Linked DNA regions of Homo sapiens: all the other regions are linked to region 4. Evidence: fine-mapped expression QTL. A gene starts in region 4. Each other region holds a variant in brackets. All regions are shown on one strand. Distances are from middle to middle.

The links. PIP is the estimated chance that this variant, and not a neighbour inherited with it, causes the effect.
Region 1: its variant is fine-mapped to the expression of HIPK2 in regulatory T cells (Schmiedel 2018, PIP 0.95).
Region 2: its variant is fine-mapped to the expression of HIPK2 in whole blood (TOPMed, PIP above 0.99).
Region 3: its variant is fine-mapped to the expression of HIPK2 in whole blood (TOPMed, PIP above 0.99).

Annotation. Positions count from the first base shown.
Region 1 is chr7:139,801,706-139,809,625 of GRCh38, reverse strand. It overlaps a transcript of TBXAS1 not described here. Among named protein-coding and RNA genes, the nearest start is that of TBXAS1, 24 kb to the left of the region's middle. RefSeq lists a silencer at 870-1,070 and an enhancer at 2,342-2,636. The variant C/T (reference allele first, on the strand shown) is at 4,151.
Region 2 is chr7:139,692,487-139,700,406 of GRCh38, reverse strand. All of the region lies in intron 2 of HIPK2 (homeodomain interacting protein kinase 2), which reads left to right. Among named protein-coding and RNA genes, the nearest start is that of HIPK2, 82 kb to the left of the region's middle. RefSeq lists an enhancer at 7,073-7,574. The variant C/G (reference allele first, on the strand shown) is at 3,665.
Region 3 is chr7:139,736,441-139,744,360 of GRCh38, reverse strand. All of the region lies in intron 1 of HIPK2 (homeodomain interacting protein kinase 2), which reads left to right. Among named protein-coding and RNA genes, the nearest start is that of HIPK2, 38 kb to the left of the region's middle. The variant T/C (reference allele first, on the strand shown) is at 3,747.
Region 4 is chr7:139,775,689-139,783,364 of GRCh38, reverse strand. HIPK2 (homeodomain interacting protein kinase 2) reads left to right here and starts at 5,367. Exons shown (of 15, transcript NM_022740.5): 1 at 5,367-5,760. The coding sequence starts at 5,742. It also overlaps a transcript of TBXAS1 not described here. RefSeq lists silencers at 5,022-5,251, 5,682-5,771.

The sequences.
Region 1 (7,920 bases), 26 kb before region 4:
GCCTTCAGCCTCGGACTGAGAGTTACAGCATGAGCTCCCCTGGTTCTGAGGTTCCGAGGCCTTTAGACGGGGACTGAGCCATGCTGTCAGCATCACTGAGTCTCCAGCTTGTAGATAACCTATCATGGGACTTCTCAGCCTCCATAGTTTGTGAGCCAATTCCCCAAATAAATCCCTTCTCATATATCTATAACTCTCTATCTCTATCTACCTATCATCTATTTACCTATGTATCTATCTCCTGTTGGTTCTGTCTGTCTATCTATCTATCTATCTATCTATCTATCTATCTATCTATCTATCTAATCTCCTATTGGTTGTGTCTATCTATCTACCTATCTATTTCCTATTGGTTCTATCTATCTATCTATCTATCTATCTATCTATCTATCATCTATCTATCTATCTATCTATCTATCTATCTATCATCTATCTCCTATTGGTTCTATCTATCTATCTATCTATCTATCTACCTATCTCCTATTGGTCCTGTCTCTCTGGAGAACTCTAATACAACACTTTGCCAAAGTGATTAATTTGCATTCTATAGCCACAGGCAGTATATGAGTAAACAATTTATACTTAAAACTGCTCTAGTCAGCTTGGTGAGTTTACCCAATCAACAAGCTTTTTTTTTTTTTTTTTTATGAAGACCTGGCACTCTGTTTCATCATGCAGCCAAGAGCATTTCCCAAAGTGATTAGAAATAGAGATAGATGAGAAAAGAATAGTGCTAACAGAAAAGGCACCATCAATTCTTTAAATCATAATTCACCAAATGTGTACTATGTTCCAGGCACTATACTGGGATTACAAAGATAAATGAGACACAGCCTCTGCCCTCAAGAAGTTCATGGAATAGGAGGTGAGACAGGTGTGTAAATAGATCATTGCAATGTGGGGAGAGCAGTGATGGAGTGGCAGAGGGACACACTCCCACTGTGAGCAGAGCTGACTTAAGGGAAGGATAAGTATTGACCAGATGTCGGTGGAGATGAGGGATCTCTAGGAAGGGGAGCCAGGAGCACGCTGGAGCTAGCTCAAACCAGCTCAGGAGGGCTGCTCGCTAAGTGTTCAGGAATTTTGCCAGCAAGCTGTTACATGTGGTCATTATTAATAATTAAATTATGTAAGTTTACAATTAAATAAATTATATTAAAAATAAAGGTTATAAATACTAAAATACAAAATACTAAAGATAATAAATGCTAAAAATATATCACTCCCTAATTATTTTACTACTATTTACTATTATCTATGCCCTTGAGGGTTTTGTTTTTGTTTTTTTGAGACAGGGTCTCACTCTGTCACCCAAGCTGGAGGGCAGTGGTGTGATCTCAGCTCACCACAATCTCTGCCTCCCAGGCTCAAGTGATTCTCCTACCTCAGCCTCCCAAGTATCTGGGACTACAGGCATGCACCACCACATCTGGCTAATTTTTGCATTTTTTTTTTTTGTAGAGATGGGATTTTGCCATGTTGCCTAGGCTGGTCTCAATCTCCTGGGCTCAAGCAATCCACCTGCCTCAGCCTCCCAAAATACTGGGATTACAGGTATAAGCTACCACACCTGGCTGAGGGTTTGTTTTAGGTCTATTGTATCTGTAAGGTGGAAATACTGTCTAATGGTGGCTATTGAACATCTCTACCCAACTCCACATTCAATGAAGTCATGTTAGTAGTTTGAGATTGGCGGTGATGGGAATATTTACACCACAGATGTCAGCAAATGCTAAAGAGCAGAGATTATTCCCCTCCCCAGAAGGCCATTTACCAGCAGACAGGGGCAAGGCCATGGAAAATAAACACAGGGAACTCCAAGCTGTGCAGAAAGCTGGGAAAATACATGGGAGGTTTAGGCACGAGGATCGCTTGAGGCCAAGAGTTTGAGACCAGCCTGGGCAACACAACAAGACCCTGTCTTTAAAAAAAAGAAAAAAATTGGCTGAGCGCGGTGGCTCACGCCTGTAATCCCAGCACTTTGGGAGGCTGAGGTGGGTGGATCACGAAGTCAAGAGATCGAGACCATCCTGGCCAACATGGTGAAACCCTGTCTCTACTAAAAATACAAAAAATTAGCAGGGCATGATGGTGGGCACCTGTAGTCCCAGCTACTTGGGAGGCTGAGGCAGGAGAATCACTTGAACCCGGGAGGCGGAGGTTGCAGTGAGCCGAGATTGCGCCACTACACTCCAGCCTGGTGACAGAGCGAGACTCCATCTAAAAAAAAAAAAAATTAACTAGGTGTGGTGGGACACCTCTGTAATCACAGCTGCTCAGGAGGCTGAGGCTGGAGGAGGCTGAGGCTGGAGGATCACTTGAGCCCAGGAATTCAAGGATACAGTGAGCTATGATCGTGCCACTGCACTCCAGCCTGGGTGGCAGAGCAGGAAACAGAATCCAGCAAAGAGCAAAGTTCAATGAGGTGAAAAGTGATCAAATCCCTGATGACCTCTGAGACCACATGGAAGAGCTGGCGCTGGAGGCTTTGGAGGACTCGAGGAAGGGAGAGATCATCTGCCCACAGCAGGGAGGGCAGTTGGACTGCAGAGTGGCCAGACCAGAGGCAGGAATCCAGGATGACTCCCCAGCAAGTGGAAGGCACATTCAATGAGAAAAGGTGACCAGTGCAGTGTTCCATATGGGAGTGTGTGCTGTCCAGTTTGTGAACCCCCTAGGTAGAAGCATTCGGCAGACAATCACTGTTCAAAGGAAGTTTGGGAGACATCTGGGCTGAGGCCAGGGACCACACACCAGTGTGGATGGCGGTGAAAGCTTTAGAGTGTGTGAGGTCACCAAGGAGGGCGGAGACAGAAAAGAACAACTGAGAATGGAGCCAAGGGGGAATCAAGGTGCAGACAGATGAGAGGGAGGATGGGGAGGGCACAGCCAGAGACCCTGGAGATAATGAAGCAGAATGGCAGGCAAGGCAGAAGAGTGTTTCAGGAAGCAGGAGACAGAGAGGGAGACAGGGCAGAGGGAGAGACCTGGAAAAAGGGGAACAGAGCATAGGTGTTCAATCCCCAGCTCCTAGAAACTCCTAAAAATACCAAAATAAAAACAGGCCAGGCACGGTGGCTCATGCCTGCAATCCCAGCACTTTGGGAGGCCAAGACGGCTGGGTCACTTGAGGTCAGGAGTTCAAGACCAGCCTGGGCAACATGGCAAAACCCTGTCTCTACTAAAAATACAAAAATTAGCTGGGTATGGTAGAGCGCGCCTGTAATCCCAGTTACTCGAGAGGCTGAGGCATGAGAATCACTTGAATCCAGGAAGTGGAGATTGCAGTGAGCCAAGATTGTGCCACTGCACTCCAGACTGAGTGACAGAGTGAGACCCTGTCTCTAAAATAAAATAAAATAAAATAAAATAAAATAAAATAACATAGGCCAGGCACAGTGGCTCATGCCTGTAATCCCAGCATTTTGGGAGGCTGAGGCAGGTGGATCACTTGAGGTCAGGAGTTCAAGACCAGTCTGGTCAACATGGTGAAACCCCGTCTCTACTAAAAATACAAAAAAAAATTAGCCAGGCGTGGTGGCGGGCGCCTGTAGTCCCAGCTACTTGGGAGGCTGAGGCAGGAGAATGGTGTGAACCCAGGAGGCGGAGCTTGCAGTGAGCCAAGAGAGCGCCACTGCAGTCTGGCCTGGGTGAAAGAGCGAGACTCCATCTCAAAAAAAAAAAAAAAAAAAGCAAAAATTTGCTAAGCATGGTGGTGCACACCTGTAGTCCCAGCTACTCGGGAGGCTGAAGCAGGAGAATTGCTTGAACCCAGAGGCAGAGGTTGCAGTGAGCTGAGATCGAGCCACTGCACTCCAGCCTGGGCAGCAGGCTGTTTCAAAAAAAAAAAAGAAGAAAGAAAGAAAGACAAGAAAGAAAGAAAGAAAGAAAGAAAGAGAGAGAGAGAGAGAGAAAGAAAGAAAGAAAGAAAGAAAGAAAGAAAGAAAGAAAGAAAGAAAGAAAGAGAAAAAGAAGGGAGGGAGGGAGGGAGGGAAGGAAAGAAGGAAGGAAAGAGAGAGAAAGAAAATCTAGGGATGTGTTCTAGACTTTCATTCTAGATATTAAGACAAGGAGGAACTAGAAGGAAGACTCACAATTCAACTCACTTCAAAGAGTTGTGTGTCATGGGATGAAAGTGGAAGGTCCATCC[C/T]ACTGAACCCTCAGGTTGAGCCCACTGAGGAACAGGAAGCACTCCTACCTTGGGGGCTGTGGCACTGGAGCCCCAGGCCCAGGAGCAAGTGAGGCAATATAACATAAAAGTTAAGACCATGAATTCTGGAGTCAGATAGTCTGGGTTTGAATGCTTATTCTGCTAATTATTAGCTTGGATAACTTTCTTAACTGAGCCCTCAGTTTCCTCATCTATGTAGTGGGAATGATGATAATATATATACCTCATAGAGTGATTGTGAGGATTAAACAAGGAAACACACATGCAATGTTCCAAATCAGGCCTGGCACCTGGCTAGCGCCACTGATGGCTGTGATCAGGATTGCTGTTAGGACACCCCCAGCACCACCAGGATCCCTGCTACACCCATCTGCCTGATGGATCACTGAACTTATCTCATTCCATCCTCCAATTCAAGATGGAAAAGGATTATTCTAATTGACTTCAGGTAAGCTGTGAAATCCATTCACATTACTTTTGGGGGAATGCATAGTCAAGAGAGATCTTTCCTCATTCCAAAATATATTAAGAGGGAAAAACAAACATGTTGTATTAGTCCATTTTCATACTGCTATGAAGAAATACCAAGACTGAGTAACTTATAAAGAAAAAGAGGTTTAATGGACTCACAGTTTCACATGGGTGGGAGGCCTCACAATTATGGTGGAAAGCAAAGGAGGAGCAAAGGCATGTCTTACATGGTGGCAGGCAAGTGAGTATATGTAGGGGAACTGCCGTTTATAGAACCATCATATCTCATGAGACTTACTATCATGAAAATAGCACAGGAAAAACCCACCCCCATGTTTCAATTACCTCCCACTGTGTCCCTCCCATGACACACAGGAGCTACAATTCAAGATGAGATTTGGGTGGGGACACAGCCAAACCATATAATTCTGCCCCTGGCCCCTCCCACATCTCATTTCCTCACATTTTAAAACACAATCATGCCTTCCCAACAGTCCCACAAAGTCTTAACTTATTCCAGCATTAACCCAAAAGTCCAAGTCCTAAGTTTCATCTGAGACAAGGCAAATCTCTTCTGCCTATGAGCCTGTAAAATCAAAGGCAAGTTAGTTATTTCCTAGATACAATGGGGATACAGGCATTGGGTAAATACATCCATTTCAAATGGGAGAAATTGGCCATAAAACAAAGGAGCTACAGGCCCCATCCAAGTCTGAAATCCAATAGGGCAATCATTAAACCTTAAAGTTACAAAATGATCTCCTTTTACTCCATGTCTCACATCCAGGGCATGCTGACACAAGCTTGGGCTCCCACAGCCCTGGGCAGCTCTGCCTCTGTGGCTTTGCTGGGTATAGCCCCCCTTCTGGCTGCTTTCCCAGTTGAGTGTCTGCAGCTTTTCCTGGTGTATGGTGCAGGCTGTCAGTGGATCTACCATTCTGGGGTCTGGAGGATGGTGGCCTTCTTCTCACAGCTCCACTAGGCAGTGCCCTAGAGGGGACTCCATGTGGGGGTTCCAAACCCACATTTCTTTTCTGCACTGCCCTAGCAGAGGTTCTCCATGAGAGCTCTGCTCCTGCAGCAAACTTCCACCTGGACATCCAGACATTTCCATTCATCCTCTGAAATCTAAGTGGAGGTTCCCCAACCTCAATTCTTGACTTTTTTGCACCTGCAGGCTCAAACCATGTAAAAGCTGCTAAGATTTGGGACTTGCACCCTCTGAAGCCACAAGTCCAAGTGGTACCTTGGCCCCTTTTAGCCACAGCTGGAGTGGCTGGGACTCACAGCACCAAGTTCCTAGGCTGCACACAGTGGGGGCCTGGGCCTGGCCCAGGAAACCATTTTTTCCCCCTAGACCTCTGGGCCTGTGAGGGGAGGGGCTGCTGCAAAGGTCTCTGACATACCCTGGAGACATTTTCCCCATTGTCTTGGTGACTAACATTGGGCTCCTTACTTATGCAAATTTCTGCAGCAGGCTTGAATTTCTCTCCAGAAAATGGGTTTTTCTTTTCTATTGCATCATCAGGCTGAAAATTTTCCAAACTTTCATGCTCTGCTTCCTCTTGAATACTTTTCTGCTTAGAAATTTCTTCCACCACATACCCTAAATCGTCTCTCTCAAGTTCAAAGTTCCACAGATCTCTAGGGCAGGGGCAAAATGCTGCCAGTCTATTTGCCAAAGCATAACAAGAGTCACCTTTGCTCCAGTTCCCAACAAGTTCCTCATCTCCGTCTGAGACCACCTCAGCCTGTACTTTATTGTCCATATCACTATCAGCATTTTAGTCAAAGCCATTCAACAAGTCTCTAGGAAGTTCCAAACTTTCTCATATTTTCCTGTCTTCGTCTGAGCCTTCCAAACTGTTCCAACCTCTGTCTGTTACCCAGTTCCAAAGTCACTTCCACATTTTCAGGTATATTTACAGCAGTACCCCACTTTACCAGTACCAATTTACTGTTTAGTTCATTTTCATACTGCTATGAAGAAATACCAGAGACTGGGTAATTTGTAAAGAAAAAGAGGTTTATTGGACTCACAGTTCCACATGGCTGGGGAGGCATCACAATCATGGCAGAGGGCAAAGGAGGAGCACATCTTACATGGCAGCAGGCAAGAGAGCATGTGCAGGGGAACTGCCACCACCTTCTTCTTTCTTCTTTCTTCTTCCTCTTCCTCTTCTTCTTCTTCTTTTCTTTTGAGACCAAGTCTCACTCTGTCACCCAGACTGGAGTGCAGTGGAGTGATCTCAGCTCACTGCAACTCCACCTCCTAGGTTCAAGTGATTCTCCTGCCTCAGCCTCTGGAGTAGCTGTGATTACAGGCACACGCCACCACACCCAGCTAATTTTTGTATTTTCAGCAGACATGGGGCTTCACCATGTTGGCCAGGTTGGTCTTGAACTCCTAACCTCAGGTAATCTACCCACTTCAGCCTCCCAAAGTGCTGGAATTACAGGCATGAGCCACTGCGAACAGCCGGGAACTGGCCTTTATAAAACCATCAGATCTCTAGAGACTTATTCACTATCACGAGAACAGAATGGAAAAAACACACCCCCATGATTCAATGACCTCCCACTGGGTCCCTCCAACAACATGTAGGGATTATGGGAGCTACAGTTCAAGATGAGATTTGGTTAGGGATGCAGCCAAACTATATCACGTGTAACCTATGCAACTATTCTGTAACGAGAAAATGGATACACGTAGCACTCAAGAAGTGTTAAAATTGAATATTTTAAAGAAAAAATGTTACTGTAGAAAATGGAAATACATTTGAACAACACTTAAAACAATATTTAAACTACATTTGATGGAGGGACAGATAAAAATCTCAGACTCCATGAAATAAAAGGTAAGAATGAGATAAGCCAACAAAGTGATATGAGAGAGTTGACACAGTTAAGAAAATAATGTGACTGGACGTGGTGGCTCACACCTGTAATCCCAGCACTTTGGGAGGCCAAGGTGGGTGGATCATCTGAGGTCAGGAGTTTGAGACCAACCTGGCCAATGTGGTAAAACCCCATCTCTACTAAAAATACAAAAATTAGCCAGACACAGTGGCGTGCATCTGTAGTCCCACCTACTTGGGAGGCTGAGGCAGAAGAATCGCTTGAACCTGGGAGGCAGAGGTTGCAGAGAGCAGATATCAGGCCACTGCACTCTAGCCTGGGTGACAAAAGGAGACTCTGTATCAAATAATAATAATAATGACATGGAAGAATTGTAAATAAACTTAGCAACCACAGTGGTTACAACTGGCAATGGAAGA
Region 2 (7,920 bases), 83 kb after region 4:
TCTGAGGTAGCTCTTGCAGCCTTATTGTCCCCATCACGTAGGGCACTGTGTGGTCAGTGCGTGGCCTCAGGTCACCCACATGTTGGTGACCACTACAACGGTACAGCCTCTGTGTCCCACTCTGTCCAGATGATTCCTTGCAGAAAGCAGGCGTGTTGAGGGTCCCCAGGCTGTGGTGTGCACAGCAGGAAACCCCCAGCTCCTCTAGAAAGGCCTGGCCTCAGGCACCCTTGAAAACACGTCTGATTTCAGCAGTCTCACGTCAGCCCTCCCCTCCCCCCACCTCGCACAGGCAAGTGTCCTGCCCTCTAGAGAGCGCCACTGAGGATTTGTTTTCCTGTCCCATTGGGAACCTCATGCTTGGTTAGCACAGACGTCGTATATCTGCATCACTGCTCCATTCTGTCCGAGGCAATGATGATGCTGACACCACTGCACAGAGCAGCACTGCCCCTGCTCCAGAATTAATGATTCAGTGCCCCAGACAAAGGTGGCATAGTGTGCAGCCACAGGAAGCATGCATGTTTTCCAGGGTGTGCCTCCCGGGAGGGCACATCTGTGCATTCACTCCGCACACCCCTGGCGTGCGCAGATTGTGACCCAGTGCTGTGAGGGATTCAGACCTGGGGCAGCCTGGAATTGACCCTGAGAATGTCAATGGGAGGGATGCAGGTGACAGCCATGCCAGCTGGACAGCAGTCATCTCCTAAGATCACCAAAGGTGAAGGGTGAGGGGTTCTGCCATGGGAAAGGCCACCTTGTGCCTGGTGCAGAGGGACCTATGCCAGCTCCACCCTCCCCAGCTGCAGGCCCAGCCTTGCCTCCTGATAGCAGGGTGTACCTGAGGGGCTTACACTCTCCTGCTCCTTAGTGAGACTTCTCCTGGACAAAACGTAACTTCTTGCTGGGTTGGAGGCTGTGGATGGCAGGTACATGTGGCCTAAGCATGGTCCTCTTCCCCAGGTGATAAAGAGGAGGCGGGGAGGGAGCCTATACATATTCACATTATCCTCCTTTCCATCTAGCAAGCGAGACTCACCACACTTAAATACTTTCCATTTCGCCTGCACAGCGTGAGGATTGCTGAGTTTGTTTTGCCATAGAAATTGAATGTTTCTAATGAAACATGACAACATCGCCTTTCCTAGCAAGTAGGAAGGGAGATCTTTTTCAGGAGATGTACTCCCTGCGGCCCTGGGGAAATGAGATACTGCCCCAGGCTGGTGGGAGAGATGGCGGGTGCCACTCTCCAGTATCTCTGTCTCACGGTTCTTGCTGCCCAAGCTACTGTGCGTCGGCAGCCGGCTGGGCCGCCCTCAGTCAAGCAGGTTGTTCGGATCGTGGCAGCTGTGGTGCTGTGTGCTCTGCGTGGGTCGTCGTTTTTATTATTTATTATACCCGTCCTTCAAGGTCCTACTCAGGTTTCATTTCTCTATTCATCTTTCTTTGGGCACTCTGCTCTTCTCTGCTGTAACTTCTTGCTGCATGTAAAATCTGTGGTATAATATATGCCTCCTTGCATTTGATGGAACTTTTGAGGTTTGGAACTTTTGTTCTATAGCTGTGTCCTGGGTGTTAGTCCTGGTCAAGGAGCTAGACTGGAACCTTTCTGGGTGTCTGTGCTGGTGATTAACATATTCCCTGTACTTGATGGTGGCGGGGTGGGTGGTAAGGATTAGAGATTTCACAGGGCCTGTTGAAGGAAAGCTGTTATATAAATCGCCCAATCCTTTCATGAGCTACAAAGGTCAGTGTTAATGAAAATCATTTCAGGATTTTTGTTTCATAAATTATGTTTAAAATAACTTTTTCAGGAACGCTCTTACATCGCTGGTACGAATGTAAAATGGCACAGCCACTGTAGAAAACAGTTTGGCAGTTCGTCAAAAACGTAAGCATAGAATTGCCATATGATTGCTGCAATTCCATTCCTAGGTATACACCCAAAAGAAGTGCAAACAAGGACTCGAACAAATACTTGTACATGCATGTTCATAGCAACACTGTTTACAACAGCCAAATGGTGGAAGCAGCCCAAATGTCCATCAGTGGATGAACGTATATGCAAATGGTGGTATAGACATACAATGGAATATTATTTCGCCACGAAAAGGAAAAATGTACTGATAAATGCTACAACATGAACATACACCCAAAACATCATGCTAAGTGAAAGAAGGCATACACGTATCGTATGATACTCTTTATATGAAATACCCAGCATAGAAAAATCCATTAAGATGGCTAGGTGCAGTAGCTCATGCCTGTAACTCCAGCGCTTTGGGAGGCCAAGATGGACAGATCACTTGAGGCCAGGAGTTCAAGACCAGCCTGGCCAACATAACGAAACCTTGTCTCTACTTAAAAATACAAAAAACTAGCCAGGCGTGGTGGCGTGCACCTGTAATCCTCAGGAGGCTGAGGCATGAGAATCACTTGAGCCTAGGAGGCGGAGGCTGCAGTGAGCCAAGATCGTGCCAATGCACTCCAGTCTGGGCGACAGAGCGAGACTCCGTCTCAAAAAAAAAAAAAAAAAAAAAAAATTCCATTAAGACAGAATGCATATTGGTGGCTGGGAGGAGGGGATAATAGGATAAATTCTTAATAGATAAGGGATTTTACTTCCAAATGATGAAAATATTTTGGAACTAGATAGACGTGATGGTTTGTACAACGTTATGAGTGATGAATGTACTAAATGCCACTGAGTTGTTCACTTTAAAAAGACTAATTTTACGCATGTGATTCACCTCAATAAATTATTTTTTAAACAGAAAAGGGAAAAAAATTAATTTTCTGTTTAATTATTTTTTAAACAGAAAAAAAAAAACCTTTAGGCTAAGTAGGAATGGGATGAGATTTTTACCAGGAACTGAGATTCAGGCCCTTTTTGGTTTATTTGTACGTGGGACCTAGCATTGTTAGAGATGCCAGGTAGAATGAGAGTATCTTTGAGAGCTGTGTTTGTGTCGTCGCCATAGGAGCTGATTTTATAAATCCTGACAAAAGCAGATTTGCGAAGATGATTTATACTTTTCCGGCTGTAGGCTGAAACAGTAAGGTAAATATTTTGTTTTCTCCTTCACTCGGAGAGAAAAGGAGCAGCTTTACTGCAGCTCTCTCTGAGGCCCCTGGGCACCTGTGTGTAAGCAGAGCTCGGCGTTGCCCTGATGGAAGTGGTGGTGTTATCTGAAGAACAGGTGTAGTGTGCACAGCGAGGCAGGAGGTAAAGCCAGGCCAGCTGCCTCTGGGTGCTCTCTCTGTCTTACAAGAAGGACTGATCCCTGGCAGGGGGTCGGGGAGGAGGCGAAAGGGGGAGTATTTTGTCTATGATATTTCAATAATTCTAAAGTCTGTGGTATAGTTGGCTTTAGAGATGGTAAGCCTAAATAAAATTCCATTTCTGCAACTGACTACCCTCGTGTGTCCTTGGCAAGTTACTTAACTTTCTGCATCCCGGCTTCCTGACCCCTAAACTGGGGATCATAATGCTGTCTTATAGAAGTTTTAAGGATTAGATGAAATCCACACATGCAGTGCCTGGCCTGTGGGGATGCACAGAAACATTCATCTCTCTGAGGAAGCAATGCTCTGAAACGTGTCACCTCTGAGTGTTGACGCCAGGAAGATGTGAGTGTTCCTTTCAGCCTGTGTGACTCTTCCC[C/G]CTTTACTCTTTTCACCCCGCCCCCTTTACTTTTATGTCCATTTCTTTGTGCTGCCATTTAGAGGAAGTGAAAAGTATCTGGGTTTGGTTTTGTTTTATCATCAACTATCTTCCCTAATCAGAAAAGACTGCATTTTTCTTTTTCTACCTTTTTTTTTTTGAGGCAGGGTCTCATTCAGTCACCCTGGCTAAAGTATAGTGGTGCACTCGCAGCTCACTGCAACCTCAAACTCCTGACCTTAAGCCATCCCCCTCCCTCAGCCTCCCCAGTAGCTGGGGCTACAGGTGTGTGTCACTGTGCCTTTCTAGTTTTTAAAATTTTTTGTAGGGATTGGTGGCGGGGGGTCTCACTATGATGCCCAGACTTGTCTCAAACTCCTGGCCTCAAGTGATCCTCCTGTCTCCACCTCCCAAAGCGCTGGGATTATAGATGTGAGCCACCCTGCCCAGCCAAGACTGCTTTTTTTCTCTTCCCATTCCTGGTTTGCCACATGGATAATTATATTTCATTGTCACAGGCCTTTATATAAGAAAGAAATCTGCATCTTACCACTGTGTATTTACGTAGTTGCATCCCCCACCCTACTATCAACAAAATCACTGACCTTCAACAAACATCACGTTATCAATGGCTTTCTGGGTACATTCTCTTTGCCTTGGTTTCCTTCTGTTCATCTGCAGCACACTTTTTCTCCCTCTGGCCAGTTCTCCGAAGTCTTAAACATTGATTAGAATGTCTGTTCTTCCTCAAATCCTGATTTGTTAATACTTTTCTTCCCCCCTTAATTCAGGAAACATTTATTGGACACCTATTAGGAGCAAGACAGTGTGCTATGATGAATCAGAACTAGGCCCTTCCCCCAAGGAGAGTCCAGTGCAGAAAATTAGACAGAAATCACTCTGATCACAGTTAAGCTGTGGGACAGGATTTCACTGAACTGTGGTTTTGTAGCCATTTCATCCCTGAGTCATGCTTCTTCCATAGTTTTCGGTAATTTGTCCAAAACATCTTTGGCAGATTATATTTTGGAACTATTGTAAATCCTCCTTTCCTAAATTTTCATCTTGAGTGTGTGTTCTTTCTACTCTTGGAAGTTTATATGGGTTTTAATGAACTGTTTGTCCTGTAAACCATTCTGTAGAGCAGTTCTGATTTGTTCTGATTCTTTGCTTTCCCCTGGCCTCTTGAATAACTTTTTAATGTCCTCAAGCTTAAATATATCTACTTCTATTCTCAAGTACAGAGGTTTCCTTCCCATGTAGCATTGATGTCAGGCAATCAGGTTGGCGTTCTCAGCCCCATTTCCCATTTCATGGTGGCCCCAAGAGATGGAGTGGCGAGCCCCCAAGGCTGTCTAACTAGCGGGTGGTGAAAGGCAGCCCCGGGCCACACAGTAGTCGTGCAGTTCCGGTGAGGCCTAACCCTCCGTTCTGAGCCACCCACTGTGATGGTCACTTTGATGACGAGGACCACGGCTCCCTGGGAATCGGCCCGCAAGCAGCCTGCTCCTCTAATGATGGAACACTTATGGCTGCTGGCAGTGGGAGACAGTATGAATATTAATAAACTATATTTCACTTTTATTACTTTTTCATGGAGATGGTGTTTGTGAGTGAAGTCCGTGCACTGAGCTACAGACAGGCGTTTTGTTTTCTTGACAAAATGGCGAACCTCGCAGCCAGAGGCAAGAGCACGTTTAGGAGCAGCTAGCTAGGAAAAATGCCAGTAAACATTAGCAGGCCATATAATAGGGGGCGAGCCTGTGGATTTCTGTGTTTTAACAGTTTTCTGAGGCAGATAAATATCACAGGTTCAGCAGTTTTGCAGGATATTCCTTGTTTGACTGTTCCTTTTCTGTTGTAATGTCTGCATGCAACTGTTAGGCCATTGCCTTGCCCCATAAATGGTTGCCAGTCACCTGTCCTGGGGTTAACAGGCAGAGCCTTGTCCTCCTGCCCATTCACTCTGCACCTTCCAGCCCTCATCCTCCACCTTCTCTGTTCAACTGACATCTTTCCACTAAACCAAAGCAGACACTACCTCCCCCATTTATCATAGCTGAGTGCCCCATCTCTGTTTTTATGTGACCATGGACCATGCGCACAGGAATGATCAGGCCACCAGGGAATGGTGGGCTTGTCTCAATCAGTGAACCTTGGCAGGTGGCGAGAACGCTTTGAGACCCAGGCAGACCACAACAGACTCCCCACGTGGTTCCAGAGACCAGAGGTGGATCTGGGCTGGGGCAGGAATGACCCCTCAGCATGACAGTGCCCCGTGCCTTTGGTCCTGCCTTGGGAGGAGACACCTGTCGGAGCTCTGAGCCGTGTGTTGCTGGGATACGTCATGATCATCGATCTGAGGTATCTTTGTGTTGGTAATGGGTATCTATCACTGGGCTAGGTGACAGAACCTTGCTCTGTTGATACATATCTGGTGTCTTGTGGAGCGTGTAAGGACACACGTGTCTCTGGCAGAGTGGAGCATGGCAGACTGTGAGAGTTACAGGAGGATGGATTAAAGTTCATCCGTTTATTTCATGAGTCAGAAAGAGCAGATGAATTTTTGCTAATTCGAAGTGCATCTATTACAGCCAGGTCAAAAGAGAAATCTGAGAAACCTTCTGTACTGAGTAATGCAGACCCTTCAGACTTAACCTTTCTTGATGATTTATTGAATAGGAAAAAAAGTATATTTCTGCTTTTGCAGTTCCAAGTTTCTTCTCGGTTTAGAATCAGTCACTTCAAGGAAAGACTGCACTCTTTATGCATGTGGAAGTGGCTTGTTTTTAGAGTTGGATTATCACTCCTTTCATGTGTTCAGTTTGCAGCAAGCATTTATTGAGTGCCTGCTGCCTGCGGGATACTGCATTTTAGTATCTGATAAGTGCACATGTTTTTAGAAATGTTTACCTGAGTCACACATTATTGGAGAATAAAGATATCATGTGTGTATACATTTCCCAAGTGACTAAAACTTACCCATTTCAACACCATACTTAAAATGTTTTTTTTTTTTTTCTGGACAAAAATTTAACAGGAAGACATCATAGCATCCCATACCTTCTGATATAGAGTAGAGGACGAAGGGGAATGAATGGCACTGGCATTTTAATAAGCATCTGCTAAAGGCCAGAGGCCTACATTTAATCTTTGGGACAACTCCCCATTTAGTGGATGAGAAAATTGAGTCTGAGGAAACCAACTGCCAAGTGGCACAAGGCTAGAAGTAGTGCTGCTGGGATTTGAACCAGGTGTGTCTGACCCCCAGACACACGTTTCTTCTACCAAGTGCTGCTCTCTCTCCAACTGAACCCCTTCCTAATCCCTCAGGGTTATTATAAATGTGATGAAATGTGTTCAAACACAGACATGCACTTAGGTGCTCTACTTAGAGTTTAATTCTCTTTGCTCCAGTTAAAAGGCTCCTTGTATCTGTGTTCATTGAGTTAAAATTCTAACTCTAGCTGCCATTTATTAAGTGCCTGTTATATGCAAGGAATTTTACATGCATTTTCTCTGTTCTTCACAAGGCATTTTTTCCATTCTGTAGATGAGGAAACAAGCTCAAGGAGGTTAAGTAACTTGCCCCAAATCCTATAATCACTAAGTGATAGAGCCTTTGGAGTCTTTCTGCCTCCAAAAGCTTTGCATCTTCTCACAGTGGTTGGTCTCTGTTCCTCTTGGGGTTAGGAACTGTTGTCATTATGCCAGCCCCTTCCTGCAGTGGCTCTCTCCTGTTCTAATGTCGTGTTCCCATCTCTTCATGACAGCAGAATCAAGTCACCAAACCTGTTGGAGGTAATGGAAAAAATATTGGCATAGGAACCAAACGACCTGGCTTCTAGCCCCAAGCTGGGCATGTGGCCTTAAGCAAGCCCTTGGCTCCTGAAATTTAGAGCCGTACTTCTTCCCTGCCTAGGATGGGCATTTATCACGAATGTGTGAGAATCTGCATATGCTCCACCCACATAATGGGTACTGACGAAATTATGTTTGGGACGTAAGCACATAACTGTTTTTTTTTCTGATGCATATAGATGCTATTGTGATTAATAAATTGGAAAATGTGACTTGCCTACTGTGACTTTTTGGTATTTTGTATTTTCTCAATTGGGAGATAGTAACAATGCAATTACTATCATGTGGGATCTAACCATTCCCCCACCCCAAATTCTACAGATGACAATAGAAACCTACTTCATGTCAGGGAGCCACGGTCACCCCTCTCTGTACACAGGAAAAGAACCTGTCCT
Region 3 (7,920 bases), 39 kb after region 4:
CTGGACATTTCATTGAAATGGAATCAGACAATGTGTGATCTTTTGTGTCTGGCTTCTTTTGCTTAGCATGATGTTTTTGAGGTTCATCCATGTTGTAGCAGGTATCGGTTCTTCATTGCTTTGTATTGCCAAATAGTGTTTCACGGTAGGAATATACCACATTTTGCTTATCTGTTAATCACTTGATGGACATGCAGGTGGTTTCCACTTTTTGGCTGTTATGAATAATCCTCCTGTGAACATTAGTGGACATGGTTTTGTGTAGACATATGTTTTCAGTTTTCTTGGTATCCCATTGTGTTTTTGATTTGCATTTCCCTAATAATTAATAATGATCATCCTGTGCATATTGACCATTTGTATGTCTTCTCTGGCTAAATGTATATTCAGTTCTTCATTCATTTAAAAAATTAGGTTGTGTTTTTATTATTGAGTTGTAAGAGTTCTTTATATACTCTGGATGTTGTACCTGGCTTTTAAATAGGCATACAATCAATGTTAGTTCCTCATTCCAGGTCTCTCGCAGAACCCTGTAGTCTTTTAGGTGACCTCTGGAACTAACTGCCCAGACACTTAATCCTCAGCATCCTGAGTCTTAAACCATCCCCTTATGTCTTGTTCAGAGCTCTTCTTAGCACAAAGCCCTGAGCCATTTTGATCCTGGAGCCCCAGTCTGGAACTTGGAACAGCAGGGGGATAGGTGGGGTCTAGAGATGGGCTCTGGCTGAATCCACAGGGCAGTGGCTACTACCAAGTCTCATTTTTTTCTAGATGGAGGACTTAGGGGGTAACTGCACTGATTTTTGGCTGCATGGAGTCCTCTGTCCTGTGCTATGGACACCTGCATGTTGGGGCTGGGGCCCACAAAGAGATATGTCTAAGGACACTGGCTTCTTTCCACTGCCACTGCCAAGATGAGCAGCGGATTTTCCAAGAGTGATCTGGCAGTTGTAAGTTGTATATAAAAATGTCCCAAGGAAAATCATGTGTCTGTTTTAAAGAGAAGGGAGTTTTCTAGGAAACCTTTGACCTGGACATTCTTCTCTATTCTGAGAACTGTACCCTGTGCCCCCAAGATGTGATCTGTACTTTGTTGCCCCTCTGCTTTTGTGCCCATCATCTTCTTCCTCTATTTCTCCTCCCTGATGTGTGCAGCCCTCCCTTTCAGCCAGTAGGGAAAGGGAAACCTGCAGGGTCCGGCAGGGTCCCCTGTTCCTCCCCAACAAAGCCTCTTAGGTTTTCTTTGGCTGGGGTCTCTTCCTGCACACCTGGGGAAGAGGTGCCTGCAAAGCAGTGAAGGCCTTGGGAGTCCCACCTAGACTGTCCTCCAGAGAGCCATCTCCACTAGTTTGTGAAACTGCCATGCCACGTTTCTGTCCTAAAGACTTGGCCTTTCCTTAGACATGGATTTGATGGGTCCTGGACAGACGTTATTGATTGTTCCTCATAAGTCAGTCAAGACAGTTTATAGTCTCTGTTAATGCCCGGGAAATTTGTTTTGGAAGACAAAGCCAGCCCAATGGCATTTGGATGATGCTGACTTATTTTAAAGGGGAGAAGATACCCCTAGATGTGCAAGTCTTTTATAGGAACAGCTGTCTATGATGAGTCTTCATGCTCCTTTTGCTTCTCTGAACATTCTGGCATGCCCCTACCTAGCTGCTATTTTCTTGATTTCATAGAAAAGCACATTCTACCCTCAGAAAATCTGCTGTCCATTTGGAATGATAAGATAAATCAGAAAATTACCCATTGTTAGAGCTAAAAGATTCCTTGGGGATTATCCAATCCATTATTTTTCAATCTCCTATCCTGACAAAAAAGAGTAAGTGTTTTGTATGGAGAAAAAAAAAAGAAGTTTCCCTTTGGTAAATAAATTTGGGCTTCAGAGCATATTGTATATCCCTCTTGGAGATCCACGGTGTGCACTGCGATATTAAAGCCTCTGAGAAGTCCTGCAAAAAAGAAAACCGCTTTATTTGATTTAACCCAGCATTTCTTAAACTGTTTTGACCTCATTTTTTTCTTCTTTTTTCATAATAAATATTAGCACCTCACAGGACACTCAGCCCAGTTTGGTAAGCATGGCCTCCTTCATGGAAGAAGAAATCTGTGTTCAGAAATATTAAGTGACTTGCTCAAAATCAACACAAAGCCAGACTTGAAGCCAAATTTTCTAACTCCCACTCCATTGTTCTTTCTACAATTTATAACCATGTCGTGGCTGAGTAAGGGTTTATGACTTTTAAAGATGTTGTCATTTACATTCCTAATGGAAAATGTAAAGGCATTAGGGTCATACTGACATGTGTTTGAATTCAGGTCCTCTGATTTTACGAGCTCATGACCTTGGGGGAGCGAATCCTGCCAGTCTCTCTGGATCTCTTTCTTCTGTAAGGTGAGGATGATAATAATGACCTCCCAGGGTTGCCGTGAGGCTTAGATGAGAGAGTGTATGTAAAGATCAAGTTCACGTTCTTATCTTTGTTTTCTCTGACATTTTTCATCATACCAGGTTCTGTGCCACTTATCTATGATTTCAAAAGACGAACCATATTACAAACAACAAAACGTGAATGGTGGTGATCATACTGAGTATTTATTGAATAGTGACTGAGAAAATGAATGCACAGGAGACAGGAGGAGTTACCTGTGAAAATTCAGAGCTATACTGAACTGATCAACGTTCACGGAATTGGAGAAATAACAAAGGTGGGACAGGCTAGAGTGTGGAGATTAATGGGGGCTGAGGGAACAGGCTGTGCACTGGTAGGACATATTCAGGATCTCAAGCTACCTGCCTGCCACTTCTGCATCCCCACCGCGTCAAACTGTGGTTGAGCTTTCTTTATTAAATATGTAGCAGTTTGCTTTTGAAATACAATATCTTCAAAAACAAAAATAATGCCAGGCCTGCCAACAAAGTTTGTCCCGAGGGGGCAAAGGTGAAGGACAAGTGAAATGTTGCAAGAGGACAGGACGATACGAAGGATGGGGTCCAGAGTGAAAGAAGAGGCCTATGAGGCTCAGCACAGTGACTCTAAGATGAAACCGAGTGTCTCCCCAGGGCGCACACATGGATGAAAAGTGAAGGGAATGAAAGAGAGAGCCAGCCATTCCAGGACTTCTGCTCTTCTCTGCAGAAATCCTCCTTTCCTCACCAACTCTTCACCAACCCCCAAGCTTGCTTAACTAGCTTTGGAATTTGTACTTTGTATTTTTGAGATAGAGTCTCACCCAGGCTGGAGTGCAGTGGCGCGATCTCAGCTCACTGCAGCCTCTGCCTCCAGGGTTCAAGCAGTTCTCCTGCCTCAGCCTCCTGAGTAGCTGGGACGACAGGCACCTGCCACCATGTCCGGCTAATTTTCGTATTTTTAGTAGAGGTGGGGTTTCACCATGTTGGCCAGGCTGGTCTTGAACTCCTGACCTCAAGTGATCCGCCCATCTCAGCCTCTCAAAGTGCTGGGATTATAGGCATGAGCCACCGCGCCTGGCCGGAATTTGTACTTTTGCCTGGTAATTTAGTCCAGTGCCCAAACATGAAGTGTGAGTGTTTGTTTACTGCCAGCTTGGAGGGGACACATGCCTGATACTGACTCACCAGTTGCATTGGTGGTGGACTTGGCTCCTTCCCTGGGCTTCAGCCCATGTGTGCACCAGTCTGATCCCTTGCTCTGAAATATATTAGGACTAACAGGTGTGCAGGCCTCGAAGGACCCGTCTCTTTTGATATCTTCCTTGTCTAG[T/C]TGCTCTCTGATTTCTCATGGTCCTCACTCCCTCCGGGTCTTCTCCCTGCCAGTTTCTGAGCAGGCACTTTCCGGAGCACAGTGTGTGGATGACAGCAAATAAGTCCTCCGAGGCTTTGACCAGGAGCACAGACAGCTTTGCCCTGGTGAGGGACGGTAGAGAGAGCACCAGTTTGCGTCCTGCTGCAGCTGCACTTTGCACAGAGCGCCTCTTCATCTGGCAAGCAAGCATGCATTGTGCCAACCCTCGTCTGCCATGCCAGGTGCTGGCTCTTTCTCCGGGGCGATACCAGGCTAAGCATGCTGCTGGCACTGAGCGAGTCACAGCTTCTCTAATTTATTTACCTCAAATCAAACAAACCCTGACTCCTGCTTTGAATTTAGGCTGGTATTTTACCGAAGGACAGAAGGGCAGCATCTCTGCAGAAGGGCCTTCTGTGCGCTTTGCCTGGGACCTCTGGGGGACTTTGCATGACTCCTGGGGACTTCAGGAGGCCACTTTGGAAAACAAGTGTCAGGTCCTCAAAAGGTTAAACATAGAGTCGCCACCTGACCTGGCAGTTCCACTCCCAGGTATGTACCCGAGAGGAATAAAAACACGTGTCCACATGGTTGCATCGCAGCGAAAAGGAGAAGCAGCCCAAATGTCCATAAGCTGACAAGTGGATACACAAAGTGTGCAGTAATAGTCCACTGAATATTATTTGGCAATAAAAGGGAATGGAATGTTGATACATGCTACCACATGAGTAAACCTTGAAAATTTTATGTTAAGCAAAAGAAGCCAGATGGACATATACATATTGTGTGATACCATTTATATGAAATGTCTAGAACAGGCAAGTCCGCAGAGATAGAAAGTAGAGATTCATGGTTTCCAGGGGCTGTGGGAAGGGGGAATGGGGAGTGACTGCTAATGGGTATGGGGTTTCTGATAATCAGAGTGATGATAATATTTTGAAATTAGATAGCAGTGATGGTCACACAATTGTGTTCAAAACCACTGAACTATACCTTTTTTTTTTTTTTGGAGAGGGTCTCACTCTGTCACCCAGGCTGGAGTGCAGCAGTACAATCTTGGCTCACCGCAACCTCCGCCTCCAGGGTTCAAGCAATTCTCCTGCCTCAGCCTCCCGAGTAGCTGGGATTACAGGCATGTGCCACCACACCCTGCTATTTTTTGTATTTTTAGTAGAGATGAGGTTTTGTCATGTTGGCCAGGCTGGTCTTGAACTCCTGGCCTCATGTGATCTGCCCACCTCAGCCTCCCAAAATGCGGGATTACAGGCATGAGCCACTGCACCTGGCCTGAACTGTACATTTTTAAAATGTGAACTTTATGGTATGTGAGTTGTTATGTCCATAAAGCTGTTACTTTAAAAATTGCCCTGCTGGGGATGGTGGCATATACCTGTGGTCCCAGCAAATAGAGAGGCTAAGGCAAGGAGGATCATTTGATCCCAGGAGTTTGAGCCTGGACAACATAGTGAAACCCTGTTTCAAAAACAAAACTTGCCCGAAACTTACCTTTGTAGCCAAGTCCTTCATGGACAGGCTAGAGGTCAGATGGAAAGAAGTCAGAAAATTTATCTTGGGCGAGGGCATTTATTCTGCCACTGTGGGAGAAGCACTGTGCCATGGGTGTGGAGGAGCAGTGTTCAGAGAGGAGTGTCCTGTGGCCTCCACAATATTCATTCAAAATTTGCCAATGTCTTGGACATCCTGGGTTCCATTCCCTGCCCGGAAATGAGTTCCTCTTTTTGCCTGGTAGATTTCAGTGATTAATAAATAAATGTTCATCCTTATACATTTAAAAACATTTTATTTGGAAATAGTTTCCAAGTTACTAAAAAATTGCAAAAATAAAAATAGTACAAAGACTACCCCTATACCCAGATTCCCCTCCCCTATACCCCATATCCAGATTTTCCTGTTATCACTTCACCCCATTTGTTTTGTCATGCCCTTGAATGTGCTGTCTCTCACTGTTGCTCTTTTGGTTGTTGTGTGTGTGCCTGTGGTGTGTTTGTATATACAGACACACGAATGATCGTTATATGACTCGAGGGTAAGTTACAAATATCATGGTGCTTTATTCCGGCACCATCCAGAATGGTAGCTACTAGCCACAAGTAGCTATTTAAATTAAAACTAAACAAAACTTTACATTCAGTTCCTCAGTCACACCAGCCACATTTTCAAGGGCTGCATAGACACATGTGTGGCTGCATCAGACAATAGAGACTACAGAACCTCTTCAGCAGCACACAGAGCTCCTCTGGACAGCTCCGCGTTACCCCCGATGCTTCAGCGTGTGTTTCCCAAGAATAGGGCGCTCTCATACATGGTACAGAGATCAACTGAAGAGAATGTAACACTGATACAATATTTTTATCTGAGCCACTGTTTACATTCCAGTTTTGTCAGTTGACCCGGTGGAGTTCTCATTCCTTTTAGAATGGAGGTCTTGGGTCTTGTTTGTGAGCCCAGATCTGCTGGTCTGTACTCAGGGAACATGTATAAAACAGGACTGCTAAGTCTTGAATTGAGCCTGTGCCTTTCCTATGCCCTTTCTTTCCATAAACTCGAATCCTTTCTCTAACTCATGTGCAGATGGATCGGGTCTGGGCCCTGGAGCCCAGGTTGAATTTCCTTAGCTCAGAATTGTTTTAATGCTTTTGTCACTGGTTGAATAACTCAAGGTGCAGCTTCCTCCTGTGCTGACATTTGGTCTGTGAGCAGGTGTGGCTCTGCTCTTAAATCAGCAGAAAAGATTTCCTGTGAGTAAAAGGAAATTGGCCTTCCCAGCAACCGCACTGTTTTTCTTTTTTCTAATCACTTTCCCCAAATTTTAGCTTGCAACTAAGAAAAGGCTCATTTTGTTCTTTGTTTCTTATTTTATGGCTTAGTCGTGACCCTGTAGCTCTGAATCACTTCATGCGGCCCAGGACCAATGGGGCACTGGGGAGCTTCCGGCCCCAAACTCCTGGTGTAGCAGAGGCCGGATGTGCAGGGCCCTTGGCAGCTCATTTTCCTGCAGTCCAGGAGAAAGGTGGGCTTCTAGCGATTTTCAGCCATGGTTTGGGTGAAAAGCTGGGGTAATGAGCAAATTGCAGTGATTTTTATTCTTTCACTAACTGGTGTTAGAGCTTATCCTCCAGGGGATTTCTGGTGACTTAATGGGATTTCATGGCATGAGTAGGTATGGAAAACAGATTCCTGGGTCACTGACTTCACTTCCATAGACATTCCCCATCCCTTAATAATTCTTAGGATTTTGTGGGTGTAAAAGCTGGGAAACAAGAAATCAACGGGCTTATTATTCTTGTATCCTTTCCTATATTTCAAGTTGCCCCTTAGAATGTATCCTCATACGTCCTCCCACCTTTTTGTTTGGATTCAGCAAGTCTTAGAAGAGAAGAATCTTTAGCAAGGTAAGACCTCGGTAGGAATACTATATGAGCCATGTAGTTTGAGCCAGGATGGAAAAGGGAAATGAATTCATGCAGAGAGAGTGGAAATGGAGCTGATAGCTTCATTTTCTGCTTAACTAAAACGGAATGAAAAGGGCTTGGCTGGCAAGGTCAGGACCACAAGGCGAGCTGCTGAGAGCCGTATGGTGCAAGATGGCAACAGAGTTTCTACCCCTTGACCACCTTTTGAGAACTGACAGGGAAGACTCTTAGCGCTGGGCCTGTGTGGCTTGTTTGGAGGAGTAAATTGAGTATACTTGATGCTAGTGAAAGAACCAGAGAGCTTCCCTGCATCCAGCCGTTGGAAGGAAAACATACATTCGGACATTCTCTGTTAATATCTTATGCGTAACATGAGGCACCCTAGTTGGGTAAATGGCTTTGATTGGCCTTTGTGGTTCCGCAAGGGTTGCTGTGTTTTGTAGGATTGTAGTTCCTGTTGTACTCCATAGCTCCAGCGTAGGCATTAAGTTTTTATGTTATTCGATAGCATCCTCCCAGCTTCAACAAAGGGTATTGGCCCAGGACAGTAACTCCTAGGAGTGCCTGAGAGCTGATTTTGTTTCAGGTCAGCTCTGGCCTTGGAGATGCCCTCCCTGGGAATCAGGGCAGAGCAGAGGGCATCTGTGCCAGGAGGGTGTGCTCTCCGCGTCCTGCTGTGGGAGTTCCCTCAGGGAAGCACCTTGGCCACCCTGACACTG
Region 4 (7,676 bases):
TTTTTTTTTTTTTGCCATATTTCCTTTCTGCTCAATGCTCTTATGGCATCGCTTTGCTTTTCCTGCACCCCTGTTCAGGTGTCTGATCATTTTTCTTCTAGGAGCAAAAGCAGAAAAATGAATGATGTTTCCCTATTCCCCTGATTTTGCCAGTGTAATTTCTCCAAGACTGCCATTTCCACAATCAGATTCCCTTCACCCTGCCAAGCCTCGCTCTCCCCTTTGCCCTTAAAGCCACAGCTCTATTGTTCCTCATTTGAATGAAATGTCTACTCTTTTAAATTCTCTGTGAGTGTAATGTCTTGTTACTGAAGCTTTCAGTTAAAGAGTTTTGTTATTAAATACTACTCTGTTACAAACTGTATCATTGAAACCGATCAAAGGTTTAAAGCAGAAAGACAAGGTAATTTCTTAAGAATAATCCAAACAAAAATAGGTCTCTATTATGACTTGTTAAGAAACAGAATTAAAATAAAGGGAGAGGAAGAAGAAATAAAGAATGTGTGGAAAAGATAGAAAGATACAGAGAAAAAGAAAATTAGACACACAGTCAGAAAGAGAGGAAAATAGAGATACAGCAAGAGACCAAAAGAGAGGTGTGATATCAAAAGACAGAACTTGAGATAGTGACCTACCTCCCTCAGGCACATCCTCCAGAGATAAACCACAGGCACAGGCTCACACATGGAAAATAAAGAGCTGTCAGGAAAATAAGAGCAACACACACCAAGTGAGAATAAGATACAAGCCACACAGACATCATGCTAAGAATACCCTGAGAGTAAGAGAGACATACACACCTAAATGCATACACCAAAAAGAGGGTTATCTCTATCCTGTGGCCTTGAAGATATTGTGATGTTGTGCAGTTTCACAACTATAGGCATACATGAAAAAAAAAAGACCCTTTGTTCCATGTCCTGTAAGCAAAATGAACTTGAAATGAGGTCAAAGCTCCCCCATGTTCACTCTACCAACTCCTGAGAAAGATATGACTTGCACCATTTTGTAGAAAGGCAAATTAAGGAGAGGTAACTGGTATAAATGGTTACTAAATCCTTTCCAGTTTTCTTGCCTTTATTATTGTTCTTCAATGCACCCTGAAGTTAAATGGTATTTTGGCAACCTAGAGTTCCATGTACTGTTAAAAAAAAAAAAAAGTGATTTTTTTAAATGATTGATTAAACTCCTTAGAACACTGACTGCTAATGTGCTTATTAAATAAATAAAATACAATGCACACTATCTCTAGCCAAATGGGACAGCTCCCAGACCCCTCTCATTGTCTCAGGCCCATGACTGGTAAGGCCCTCTCTGCTTGGAGCAATCTCTGGTGCTCTTTTCTGGTACCTCCTTAGCCCTCCCCATCCTTCTACTATCTCCACCCATAAAACAGGACACATATTCAGGTAGAATTTAAGAAACCTGTATTTCCCTCCAAACTAGTTTCACCAAAGTCACTAATGCAACTCTTGTTGCTAAATCCAATTGATGCCTTTCTGCCTTTTTTTTTTTTTTTTTTTTTTTGAGATGGAATTTAGCTCTTGTTGCCTAGGCTAGAGTGCAATGGCACTAGAACTCGGCTCACTGCAACCTCTGCCTCCTGGGTTCAAGCGATTATCCTATCTCAGCCTCCCAAGTAGCTGGGATTACAGGTGCCCACCGCCACGTCTGGCTAATTTTTTTTGTGTTTTTAGTAGAGATGGAGTTTCATCATGTTGGCCAGGCTGGTCTCAAACTCTTGACCTCAGGTGATCTGCCTGCCTCAGCCTCCCAAAGTGCTGGGATTACAGGCGTGAGCCACAGCACCCAGCTGCTTTTCTGCTTTCATCTGACGTGGGCCTCTCAATAGCATGCAGCACTGTTGACCTTGCTGGGATGTTGAGGAATCCCCCGTCCTGGCTGTCCTCCAACTTCTCTGCCCTCTTGTCCATGGGGAGCTCTTTTTCCTCTTCCCATGTCTCAAATACTGGTACTCCCCAGGTTCTGTCACAGATCCTCTCTCCTCCCAGCTCCCATGCTCTCCTTCAGTGACATTTCACTGTTAGGTTTATACCTTGCTGCCACTTGACTGCAGTCACCGGAAGGAAAGGAGACAATTAGTATACTCAGTCTGCCAATTCATGAAGGAAAATCTAAGCTCATTTCAAGAATATTTTTCCGTTATATCATACGAACTTCGCTAGCTCAATTGAATGCATGTTTTGCATCTCATGGATACAGCTTCAGTCATGGTGGTCTGAAGAGAAGGTGGACCTCTGTCTGTATGGCTCCATCTTGTTCCCCTTCCATGGGACTCTATTTCCTTGCCCAAGATTGTTCCCTTCTTATGGGGAGGAGACTACCTGTAAAATGTTTTCGGTTGACACAAGTGATATTCATTTTAAGACTGCCTAGAATCACTCACTGCTAGACAGCAGCTGGGATGGACTTAGAGGCAGTTACTGAACACTGGTCAGTGCTGAATTCAGGGGCAGTCCTATAAAGCAGGGCCTTGCTCCAAGACGCTGCCAATCCAGTTATGAACACAGGGTACCTACACAGAAGACAAGAGTCAGCCATCTAGGGTGCGGGTATGCTGTGGACAACAGAGTGTGAGCAACAGGCAGGAAATGTTCTGTGAGCCTAAGGAAAGATGAGACAAAAGTCAGTGGGGCTGGTCAGAGGGAGGAGTTAGAATAATAATAACTTTTATTGAACCCCTACTATGTGTCTGCCCTCTATATAAAACTCTCTCTCTAATCTAACCCAGCCTCAGAGGCTGTGATGAGGACTATATGAAATGCCTTTTATCGAGTTTGTAGTGTTGTGCTGGACACAAGGGAGCATGCAACAAATTGCAGCTATCATCCATTCAACAAATATGTGTGCAGTACTCACCATGCGTTAGGCAATGCAGTTATTGGACATACAATCCAAAACAAGAAAAACATGGTTTCTGTCCTTACTGAGCTTACAGTCTAGAGACACCTTGTCCAAAATGGTAGCCACTAACCACCCATGGTTATTAAAATTAAAAATTCAGTTCCTCAGTCATACTAGCCACATTTCATGTGCTCCACAGACATAAGTAGCTACACTGCCATTATGGCAGCAAGTTCTAATGGCCAGCACTAGAAAGGGGCAGAGAGACATGCATGTAGGGTATGTATTAACAGGGAGTTACATACCTGTGTGGTGAAGGCTATGATAGAGATTTACAGATGCAAAAGGAGAACATTACTATTGTTCTCCTTCTCATAATCAAAATACAGACACTGAGGCTCAGAGAGGTTAAGCATTTTGACCAAGATCACATAGTTAAGTGGAAGAGCTAGGATTTGAACCTAGGTCTGACTTACTCCCACGCTATCTCGGGCTGTTTTGTGGAGGAGGTGAGCCAGGCACAGGTAGAATCTGCTTAAAGAGAGAAGATGGAGAAGGTACCCCTCTGGGAAAGTGGGTGGGAAAGTGACCGCTTGGGCAAAGGCACAGTGACAGAGATGGGTGAAGCTGGCACTGGGCTACAAGTAAACCAGTTTGGCTAGAGAAGCAGTGACTTGCTGAACTCATGTCCTTAGAAAGCTAAGTCAGGACTCGCCTGCCTTGATGAAAAGCCAAGGCACTCAGCCCCACCTGCAGAGGTTGAGTCCTTAGAGGATGTTAGCCAGGAGCGTGGCATGGCCAGAACCACGTATTATGAAGATGGCAATATTTAGGATGACCTGGGCCAAGACTAAAGTTAAAGATTGCAGGGAGGATAGAAGGGAAGGAGATAAATGACCGGTGTGGAGCAAAAAACACTAGAGTGGGAGCCACGAGACCTATTCCTAAGCTTCAATACTGTGTGACATTGGGCAACAGATTTTACTTCTCTGGACTCCATTTCTTCAACTCTAAAAGGGCAGGGCTGGCCCAGATGACCTCTGAGGTCCTTTTAGCAACAGTAGTCTAGGATTCTGCAAACGTGAATGGCATTAGGTTAAGAGAAGGGATAGGAAGTGTAGCATTGATTATGGGGGCAAGGAAGACCGCAGAGTACAAGATCACACAGAGGAAGGTGTCGTGATGTACCACTAAAAAAGTGTGAAAGAGCTTGCCTTTTTTGGGAAGGACTGAAGGATGGGAACGGAGGATGGAGACCGGAAAGGATAAGAAGTAGTGAGAAAATCACGAGGTTGTTTTTAAGAAAGTTATACAGTGTTAGAGATCATTATTTTACACAGATAGCTTTTCAACTTTTTTAAACCCACGATTCACAGACGGAAATAAAATTGACATCATGGTCCAGTACACTTGTCCAGTACCTATAATCGAAACAAAAGGTTTATGAAACAATAGTTGCCCTTACTAAGGGCAATGGACTCTAATATTTTCTATTGGATTCCATTTCGTTCTTTTTGAAAGCTGGTTGCCTTCCGCTGCATTTATTTTATGATCTATTACTGTGTCACGACCCACAGTTTTAAAAACAGTGCCTAAGAGGAGACTCAACAAGTCTTCCTAAGTTGGAGGGGATGGCAGGGCATCCTATCCAAGCATCCGGGAGGCAGCTGGAGAAGCAAACCTGGAGAGGCTCCCGGCTGGGGAGAGTCTGGAGAGTGTTTAGCGGAAGCCCTGATAGGAGAGAGCGCTGAGAAAAGCGAGGACCCAGAGAGTTGTGAGCTCCCATTCAAGTGATGGAGTGGCGGCCCTCGGGACAGTGTAGACGCGAGGAGGAGAAGATCAGGGTGGCGTGGAAGCCAGACTCCGGCAGGAACCCAGCGACCACCCCGGGGGCTGCATTTCCGCGGCGTGCACGGCAGGGCTTCGGTGCCTCTGACCTCGTGTGGCTTTCCGAAGCTCCTCCACTCACCCGCCCTCCTCCGGAGCACGGCGCGCGCCCACTCCTTCATTCATTCATTCCACTCCTACCTCCGCGAGCGCCAACCGGCTGTGAGATGGGCGAGCCACTTTGCCAGCGTGGGGCTCTCTTTCGGGTCGGTTCCCTCCCCGCCAGCACACGCGCGAACCCTCGCACCTGGGCACACACGCGCGCGCGTGCACACACACACACAAAGTTCTGGGGGCCCCTCTGCAGACCGGCTCGGCTGCGCTGGGCTCGGAGCCGTGCGCCCGCCGGGTCCAGGCCGGCCCTCTCACCCACTACCCGGGGCCCGCCCTGCGCCCAGTCCCCCCGCGCTGCGCGGCAGCCCCTCCCAGCGCGGTCCCCTCGGGCCGCCGGCGCGGCTCTGCCCTTCGGTTCGGCCTTCCCCGCCTCGCATCCGTGCCATCGGCGCTCGATTGCGCGCGGACTCCCTGTGGCTCTCCCGGCCCCGCGCCCCGCCCCCGCCCCCGCCCGCCGCCCCCCTCCGCCAGCAACTTTTGCGGAGCCCCCGCGCCCAGCCATGCTGAGCTGAGCCCCGCCGGCCCTGGCCGCGCGCTGCCCCCGGCTCCCGCCCCTCCGCGGATCCGCTCGGGGGCCGCGGCCGCTCGGCGCCTCGGCCTCGGCCGCTCCGCCCGCCCGGCCGCCCCGAGCCCCGAGCCCCGAGCCCCCCGCGCCGGGCCCGGGCGGCAGCGGCGGCGGCGGCGGCGGCGGCGCGCCCGGCCCCCTCCCCCGGCGCCGGCCACGGGAGGCGGTGATGCGGGCGCGGGCGGCCTCGGCTGCGCCGAGAGCGGAGACACAGGCTCAAGATGGCAGATTCCGACTGAGGCTGGGGGGGCCGAGCTCGCGCGCCGCTTTCCCGTCCCCGTTGCCATGAACCGCGGACACCCCGGCCCCGATGGCCCCCGTGTACGAAGGTAAGGGGCGCCCGGCCCCGCCGACCCCGCGCCCGCCGCCCTCCGCGGCCCCCGCAGCTTTGTTCTGCCCGCGGCCCCGCGCCCGCAGCCCCCGGCGCCTGCCCCAGCCCCCACCCGGGGCCCGAGGGGGCCGCGACCCCCTCCCTCGCCCGGAAGATGACCGGGACCCGGCGCCGGCAGGGTCTTGCTTCCAGGGCGGGGAGAGGGGCCGGGGGCGCAGGAGGGGAGGGGGCGTGTGCGAGGGTGGGCGGCTGCCCGGGGAGGGCAGGGACGCCGGGGAAGGCGGACCGGTGACTGTGCTTTTTATTTATTTGCGATAAATGAAGGTGATGCGGCTTAGCTTCCACCGCCCCCCCACATTACCTTTCGGAGCACCTCCTTTCCACTTCGCTCTCCGCCCCGCGCCCCTTCCCATTTCTTTCCGCGCCCACCCCACGCTCCTTTATTCTCCGCGAGCCTCCGATTTTGGGGGGGCTGTGGAATCGGAATGCACGGGGCTAGGTGGGGAGAGAGGAGAGAGATGAAAAGTCCATGTCAGAGCCAGGCAGAACAATGAAATAGGCGAAAATCTCCCCTCATTAGCGTGTGGAAGGGGACGTGGACTTTGGGTTTTCCAGCCGGGGGAGCGGCGGAGACGTTTTTCTGGCTCGGTCTGGGTCGATCTGTGTTGTGCACCTTCACCTGGCATCGGGGTATTTTTCCCCATTTGACTGCCTTTAGCAAGAAAGAAAAGAACGCAAGGCAGAAAAGCAGTAGGTCTGCCTCGCACACTGTCTTTCGTTTCTCTTCAGTCCGTTCTGTCAGCTTCCAGCCAGAAAGCAACCCAGAATCAACTAAGTTTTTACACTTCGATGTGTTTTTGTGTGCTTGTAGTAGGAGAAATTTTAAACCCAAGTGTGTCTGATTTTTCAGTCGTTTCATCGTGTAAATGTTTGTCTCATGAAATCATTGAAATCGCAGCCTTCACATACTTTTAGCGTGGGTCCCCCGGCTTTCTTTCGGTTTTGTTCAGATATTCTGTGGATGAAATCGCAAATGAGAGGGGACAGGGTTTGTGTGGCACAGAGGAGGGCACGAGGGGGGAATGTAATCCTCCTGTAAATCCGGAGAACAGTTGTGGCCAGTGAGACAGGGAAGGCATTAATAGTTTTATCTCTGTTATAAGAGGCTGATTAAAAAAAAAAAAACTTAAAAGAAAATCTGTTATTAGTTTCAGGGCTCCAAATGAATTAGGTTTCTGGCCGGAATAAAGTTACCAGTCAGGCCCTGGATAACGAGGCTGTAAATAACCTATAGACTGTAAATATTTTTTTTTCAGACTCTCTTAGAAACAAAGGGGCTGTTTAGAAGGCAACAGAGAGATGTTATTCCAGGGGCTTTCCTCTTTGATTCTGAAGAACACAAGGTCCATTTAACCATTCGACAAAACAAAACGAAATTTCTGATCACTCCACCACGCAGAATAGAACATGCCGGTGGACATGTGAACATGCGGGAGAACCCATGTCGGGCGTTCATTGTTCATCTGCGTCTACAGGAGGGGGCTACAGTCAATGCTCCCACTGTCTAGAGTGTTAAAATGAAACAATTTTCTCTTTATTAAGTACCTCCTTGAGACTCCCTCTGCTGGACACTCCCGGTGAGTTGAGAGAAGGAACTTGGCATTGAATTCAGAACTATAGTAAACGGCTGGTTTCCCTGTTACTAGGGACCGGGTATGTGAGTTGGGGTGTATTTTGTCAACTTTGTGGAAAGCCATCTTGGGAACTGCACTGTTCTCCTCCTGCTCCTTTCATTTTAAATCCATATGGAAGGTAGGCCATGCCCCCGAGGCTGAGACTTGGCTCTCCCCGTTCCTGCTACATTGTTCTTCCAGTTCCTTACGCCAGATAAAGAACTGCAGGTGTGTAGGGTGT